Linked DNA regions of Homo sapiens. The protein of the gene in region 1 interacts with the protein of each later gene in a pairwise test. Each region holds a gene or a part of one and is shown in the gene's direction. Other genes may lie near its edges.

Region 1 (4,006 bases):
AAGCACACAAGGCAGTTCTAGCTGCCTGTAGCTCCTATTTTAGAATGTTTTTCATGAACCATCAGCATAGTACTGCACAACTGAATCTCAGCAACATGAAAATTAGTGCAGAATGTTTTGATCTCATTTTGCAGTTTATGTATTTAGGAAAAATTATGACAGCTCCCTCCAGTTTTGAGCAGTTTAAAGTGGCAATGAACTACCTACAGCTATACAATGTTCCTGACTGTTTAGAAGACATCCAGGATGCAGATTGTTCTAGTTCAAAATGTTCCTCTTCTGCTTCCAGCAAACAGAACAGCAAAATGATATTTGGGGTAAGAATGTATGAAGATACTGTGGCTCGAAATGGCAATGAAGCCAACAGGTGGTGTGCAGAGCCAAGTTCAACGGTAAATACACCACATAATAGAGAGGCTGATGAAGAGTCTTTACAATTAGGTAATTTTCCTGAGCCACTATTTGATGTATGTAAAAAAAGTTCCGTGTCCAAATTATCTACTCCAAAAGAACGTGTGTCAAGACGCTTTGGGCGGAGTTTTACCTGTGATAGCTGTGGATTTGGCTTTAGCTGTGAAAAATTATTAGATGAGCATGTGCTAACCTGTACTAACAGACATTTATACCAAAACACAAGATCTTACCATAGAATAGTAGATATTAGAGATGGAAAAGACAGTAACATCAAAGCTGAATTTGGTGAAAAAGATTCTTCCAAAACATTTTCTGCACAGACGGACAAATACAGAGGAGACACAAGCCAGGCTGCTGATGATTCAGCTTCAACCACTGGAAGCAGAAAAAGTAGCACAGTGGAGTCTGAAATAGCAAGCGAAGAGAAAAGCAGAGCTGCTGAGAGGAAAAGGATTATTATTAAGATGGAGCCAGAAGATATTCCTACAGATGAACTGAAAGACTTTAACATTATTAAAGTTACTGATAAAGACTGTAATGAATCCACTGACAATGATGAATTAGAAGATGAACCTGAAGAGCCATTTTATAGATACTATGTTGAAGAAGATGTCAGCATAAAAAAAAGTGGTAGGAAAACTCTAAAACCTCGAATGTCAGTAAGTGCTGATGAAAGAGGTGGTTTAGAGAATATGAGGCCCCCTAACAACAGCAGTCCAGTACAAGAGGATGCTGAAAATGCATCTTGTGAGCTGTGTGGACTTACAATAACCGAGGAGGACCTGTCATCTCATTACTTAGCCAAACACATTGAAAATATCTGTGCATGTGGTAAATGTGGACAAATACTTGTAAAGGGTAGGCAGCTTCAGGAACATGCTCAACGATGTGGCGAGCCCCAAGATCTGACCATGAATGGGTTAGGAAATACTGAGGAGAAAATGGACTTGGAAGAGAATCCTGATGAGCAGTCCGAAATAAGAGATATGTTTGTTGAAATGCTGGATGATTTTAGGGACAATCATTACCAGATAAACAGTATCCAAAAAAAGCAGTTATTTAAACATTCTGCCTGCCCTTTTCGATGTCCTAATTGTGGCCAGCGTTTTGAAACTGAAAATCTAGTGGTTGAACATATGTCTAGCTGCTTAGATCAAGATATGTTTAAGAGTGCCATCATGGAAGAAAATGAAAGAGATCACAGACGAAAGCATTTTTGTAATCTGTGTGGAAAAGGATTTTATCAGCGGTGTCACTTAAGAGAACACTATACTGTTCATACTAAGGAAAAACAGTTTGTTTGTCAAACATGTGGAAAGCAGTTTTTAAGAGAGCGTCAGTTGCGACTGCACAATGATATGCACAAAGGCATGGCCAGGTATGTCTGTTCCATTTGTGATCAAGGAAACTTCAGAAAACATGACCATGTACGGCATATGATTTCTCATTTATCTGCTGGTGAGACTATATGCCAGGTCTGCTTTCAGATATTCCCAAATAATGAACAGTTGGAGCAGCACATGGATGTTCATCTGTATACATGTGGAATATGTGGAGCAAAATTTAATTTGAGGAAAGATATGAGATCACATTATAATGCCAAGCATTTGAAAAGAACCTGAGTGATTTTCTACTGTACTAATGTTTAGATGATAGCAGATAAAACACCAAAGCAAAGGATATGAGCTATTTAGGAATTGATTATATAAGATGATTTGTTAGAAACAAATTTCAAGGCCCTTTTAACTTTAATATTTTTGTTTAGGATTTTAAGTATCTACATTTAGGTATTAAATGTTTATCATTTTTGTTGTTTCTTAATAGAATTATTTGTTTTTAGTTTTTCTTAGCTATGATTAAAATTTTTAAATGTAGACTACAAGTGGTTGTTACCCATTCAATGACTATTAAACTTTAGTTTTTCATCAATAAGGTGATGACTTCACTATTTCTATGTGTTTTTTTTTTTTTAAGGTTATCCTGTGAAATTTTAAACCCAGAATCATTGGCCATTTCTGTTTAAATTTTAAAAATTCCTTAAGTAATTATTTGAAACTATCCCGTTTGCTTTTAGTGAGTTAACTACTCTTTATTCCCCCTTATTAATGAAATTCATATTCTTAAATTGACAAGCTTATTAGGCAAGTTAGGTGCACTGAATCTAACCTTTAAGGTTGACATGGGCTCAAACTTGGCCTAAAAAGATTGATGAACCTGAGGAAATTTTTATAAATGAATATTTCCTATAATTGATAAAATATTATCATTTAATTATCACATTTAAAACTTATATTAAGTGTAAATTCCAGTGGCTTTACCTCACTTGAAAAATTAGTGGGGATAAGCCATTTTGTTTTGTGATATTAAATTTAACTATGATAGTTAATTAAAAAGACATATCTTGTATTCATTAAAAATATTTTAATTTAAAATATTCTGATTTCTAAAGTGTGTTAGCTTATCAATTATTTTTGTTTATAAATAGACTTTAATAGCTCTCTAAGAATATGACCTCTAAAGGAAAAGATGATTTTTTACAATACATACTTCTGGAACTTTGAGATTTGAGAAAGCTTCCATGTATATTGATAAATCTAATAAAATAAAGAGATCAATTATAAACCTGGTTGTTCTATAAAAGTAGAGTGCACAAAAAAATGTCTTGTGTTTTATACTGTCTAAGATTTGGAGGAAATGTGGCAAATTGCAGTTTATCGCCATATTTTATTATCATTTTTTTCTGTAAAAGACTATAAAACTTGAGGATTATAAAATAATCACAGAGTATATCAATGGAAACAGTTTATCATTTTTTCAGTTAAAGTAGTAGTATTGTTAGTTGTTGCTGACACAGGGTCTACATAATTACATGTGAATTAAAACATTGGCAAAACTGACCCACCAATAAACACATCTATTGAATAGAATGCCTTTTAATGTGAATTACTTGCAATGTAGTACCCTTTTCATAATGAAAGGGATTTTAATTAACTCCTAATTTTAAAAATATAAATTTGTGATTCTGAACACTAATAGCATTGCTCTTTTTGTTCACATCATATTTAAAATATGCAAATCATATTTTGTATACAATTTACATAAAAGAACAAGTTGCCAAAAGAACTGAGAGACATACTGGTGAGTACAGATTTAGTTGAAAGCATTAGAGCACCATGTGAGCTCAGATTTGTGGGGATATGTTGAAGTGTTAAGTAAGGATAGGAACAGCACAGGAACCAAGTGCAGAATTCAAATAACGGGAAGTAGGCAGGGGACGGGTAGAATACACACAAAAATTAAAAATTTAACAGCAAAAGCAGGAAAAGTGATTCATCTTACCCTTACTTAGATACAATAGTTTATCAAGTAATTAAATTTGAAATCCAACTTAAAATGAAATGTGGTATGTATATTACTGATAGGAACCAGATAAAAGTTCTCTAACCCAGAGACCATCAGAGAGTGGTATAAAGAGATCAGATAAACCAAGTTTCCAAACTACAGTATATAGTATCATAATGGACATAATTTATTTGAGATCACTTTTTTCGTGACTCATCAAAATTTTTCTTGCAGTGGCTTTCCCCATTGT
Region 2 (3,824 bases), on another chromosome or scaffold:
GAACTGACCTCGTGATCCACCCAAAGTACTGGGCCTCCCAAAGTACTGGGATTACAGGCGTGAGACACCGCGCCCGGCCGACTCAATTCTATTTTTAAAAATATTAGGAGATTACATAGCTTTGATCGGTGTAAAACATTCCCAGTTCTCACCATCAACAACTCTGGCCAGGAGGATTTTTCTTTCTGACATATATCTAAGCTCTCAAATGTTGCAACTCGTTAGAATTCCATCAAATATCAGATCTGTTGATTAACAAATTCCTGCAGTTTTCTGCAAATGTCCCTCCTACTTGCAAAGAAGACGTCCATTTTGGCCAAGTAGACAGTAAGAAATAAGGATTAACAGGTGAGGTCAGGATGTGTCTCGTGTTCCAGACTTTAGGTGAGCTCAGCCTGAGGGCTTATTCCCTTTCCTTGGAGGAACACAGGATGTTAGTTGAAAATCCAGTCTATATGCAATAGTCAGTCCCATCCGAAACAGACTGGACTTGGCCTTGGACTTCCCAGAGCCATGCTCTCTTACTGTCCCTTGTGGCCTCTCTCATTCTACTCAGGTAAGGTCGGGTTTGAAGCTACGTTTATGGAAATGCAATGCGTGCCACTCAAAAACCCTCCAGTCCATAAGCTGGGACTTCTGCCCCGTTCCCTTTTTCCAGGGGCTTCCCTTCAAACAGCAGTGAGTCTCTATGGGGAATCCCTGCATCTCCCTCTCTCTTGTCTTCCCAGGAGCAGCATCCAGTTGGACTTCCCCGAACCACAGGCCCCATGCAGTCCTCCGTGCCCCCAGGCTCAGGTGGCATGGTCTCAGGAGCCAGTCCCGCAGGCCCCGGCTTCCTGGGCAGCCAGCCCCAAGCAGCCATCATGAAGCAGATGCTCATTGATCAGCGGGCCCAGTTGATAGAGCAGCAGAAGCAACAGTTCCTGCGGGAGCAAAGGCAGCAGCAGCAGCAGCAGCAGCAGCAGATTTTGGCGGAACAGGTAACATGCCCCTTGGCGTGATTCATTCATTCATTCAGCAAGCACTTATTCAGCACCTGCCTGCTGCCTGTGAGGAAGTGGCAGTTCACATCCTCCATCAAGATGCTCACGGTCTAGCATTTCCCAGGATCACAAGAGAACCTGAAGAATTTAGACCTTTCAATTAGTTAGGGTTTTTCCTATAATGAATTAATTTGTTCTTAAAAGACAGGCTCCAGCCATCAATTTGAAGGCCTGTGTGCCAGAGACATTTCTTTGATTCAAGTCTGACTCCTTTCCTTCTGATTTCTGGTACAGGGGTCTGTGTAATCAGCACATGGCGGGGACTGTCTCACATGCTCCATAAGCCGTAATATTTCTAGCTTGAAGAAAAAAATAATAATTCAGAGAACTCTGTTTCTTAGAGGAAATTGACAGGAAGAGGAATTGAGAAGAATTCTATAGAATGGGTAATGAACAATGGATCAGGAACAATAGCAGAATAATAAGGCCTGCAGAACTACCTGGAAACCTGAACTCTGGGTCACACACAGGGTGCAAACTTAAGAAAACTCCCCACAGCTTTTAAAACAGCTCAGGAAATCTGTGAGTTAAAGGAAAGCCTAACACAAATACAGCTTTACCTTAAGCATCTTTGTCCACCCTCGCCCTATAATTCCTCAGCTTTGAGAGAAAGCCTTCCCTGCAGACTGCTACTGTAGATTTCAATTTGTTTTGTTTTTAGAGATGCCCATACCTGACTTAGCATTATCCTAGGGAAAGGCCTGAGGCTGTCCACAAGAGATCCCCAGGCGGCTTCTGTGAGGGTCTGCACAGAGAATCTTGCACAGCAGGCTCTTTCTTATAGGAGGTGTGAGGTTGTCATATAAAGCTGAAGGCCCAACATAAGTCTGCCTCACAGTTATCCTTCTAGAATATTCCTGATAGGGTCAGAATTTTATGAATTTTTTCTTAAAGAAATAGAGACGGGGTCGCACTATGTTGACCAGGCTGGTCTCGAACTTCTGGCCTCAAGCGATCCTCCCATCTCAGCCTCCCAAAGTGCTAGGATTACAGATGTGAGCCACCACGCCCTGCCAGAATTTTGCAAATTTACTAAGCATCCACCACCGTGTATCCTGTGTAGGACACGGGCCCATGGAGGTCCCTATTAACCAAGAATAGCAGTTCAAAGTAACACCAGGCATCCCCCAAAGAGAAAAATTGTACTGCTGAGCACAGTTCACTTATGTTCCCTTTTTTTTTTTTTTTTTTTTTTTGCTTTTGTTCCTGAACAGCTGTGTAATTATCTCCCTTTTTACCAAGGTCAGTCAGCCGCCTGGCAGCTATTGTACAAACAAACCTCTATCCCTCTCACCTACATAAGGTGTGCGACAAGGAGCCATGCTAATCTCTCTCAGGCAGTGACAAATGGAGCTGCCGAGGGCAGCTGGGCTCTGTAAATCCTCTCCTCAGCCAATCCCAGGAAATCTCAGGTGTGCCTGATGTTTTGAGTGATGGCTTTTGATATGTGTGCTGTGACCAAAGACACAAAGAAGGCCCAGGGCAAGCAGGCAGAGCTCAGCTGTGCAGCCCAAGGGTGTTCCCACACGGTGAGGCCAGCCCGACCCTGGGGAGCACAGGGTGTGGGAAGAGTGTGAGAAGAGACACGTCAAGATGATGCCCCCAGACAAGGAGGTGAGAGGTCAGGGGAGACCCCTCAGAATCCAGAGCATGGAGAGAGCTGGGGCTTCTTGGGAAAGACAAGGGAAATGGGAAGCCGTGACCTGTGGATCATTCCGTAGCAACTGTGTGTACCAAAAGATGATGAGGGATGAGGGGAGGATCACTTTCCTCAGGGCCAAGATTTGTCCGTTCTTTTGCATGTGATGTGATTTTGGAAAAACCACTAACTTCCCTCTTCATCTGCCAGATTAGGTTTTAATAATTTCCCAGCCCACCTCATGTAGCTGCTTTAAGGATCACATAAGATCATGTGTATAAAATGTTTTGGAAGCTGTATGTGCTGCACACATGTATGTGGGGGCCTGTCACGTGGCCCTGGTGTCAGCGAATGTCATGTGAGAGCTGCAGCCACATGGCCCAGCCAGGTCAGTGGAGCGTCTTGCCTGTACCTGAGGAGGGTGCAGATTTAGTGCAGGTTGTCCAAGTGCAGGTCTACAAGGAGTAAGTGCTCAACTTTTTTTTGTTTGTTTTGTTTTGAGACAGGGTCTCACTTTGTCACCCAGGCTGGAGTGCAGTGGCATGATCTCGGCTCACTACAACCTCTGCCTGATGAGCTCAAGCAATCTTCCCACCTCAGCCTCCAGAATAGCTGGGACCACAGGCAAACACCATCACGCCTGGCTAATTTTTGTATTTTAGTAGAGATGGGGTTTCACCATGTTGGCCAGGCTGGTCTCGAACTCCTGGGCTCAAGCAATCTGCCTGCCTCGGCCTCCCAAAGTGCTGGGGTTACAGGTGTGAGCCACGGCACCCGGCCAGCTCTCAGTTTTTCGTTTTGAGAGTGAATACTGCCAGATCAACACCAATCTTGGTTGCTGCAGCATTGAAAGTGTCCTCACACTTTGGATTTTGGAAACAGATTTTGGGTTTCCTGAAAGGACATGTGAGGGAAAACAGAAGGATTTGGGATCTTACATATTTTGGGAAACTTTAAAATGATTCTCAGTAGACTTGGCAATCAGAGCAGTGCAGGTTGAAAGTAGGCATGAATTCACATTTAATGCCGTATTCTCCAAAAGTTCAAAGCACATAACCTCTCATCCATTCACAAAGGTTAGACAGAACTTAGAAACATTCTACATCATGAAGTCCCATCATTTTACAAATGAGGAACTGAGG

What was found.
Region 2: the proteins of ZBTB1 (region 1) and MAML3 interact in a two-hybrid assay, tested with the Homo sapiens proteins (one large-scale study listed by BioGRID and IntAct).

Annotation. Positions count from the first base shown.
Region 1 is NC_000014.9:64,521,611-64,525,616, forward strand, and holds the end of ZBTB1 (zinc finger and BTB domain-containing protein 1), read left to right. Parts: coding exon 1-2,036; 3' UTR 2,037-3,341; downstream 3,342-4,006.
Region 2 is NC_000004.12:139,727,572-139,731,395, reverse strand, and holds part of MAML3 (mastermind-like protein 3), read left to right. Parts: exon of another isoform or gene 1-728; coding exon 729-980; exon of another isoform or gene 981-1,121; intron 1,122-3,824. UniProt on the Homo sapiens protein: Acts as a transcriptional coactivator for NOTCH proteins. Has been shown to amplify NOTCH-induced transcription of HES1.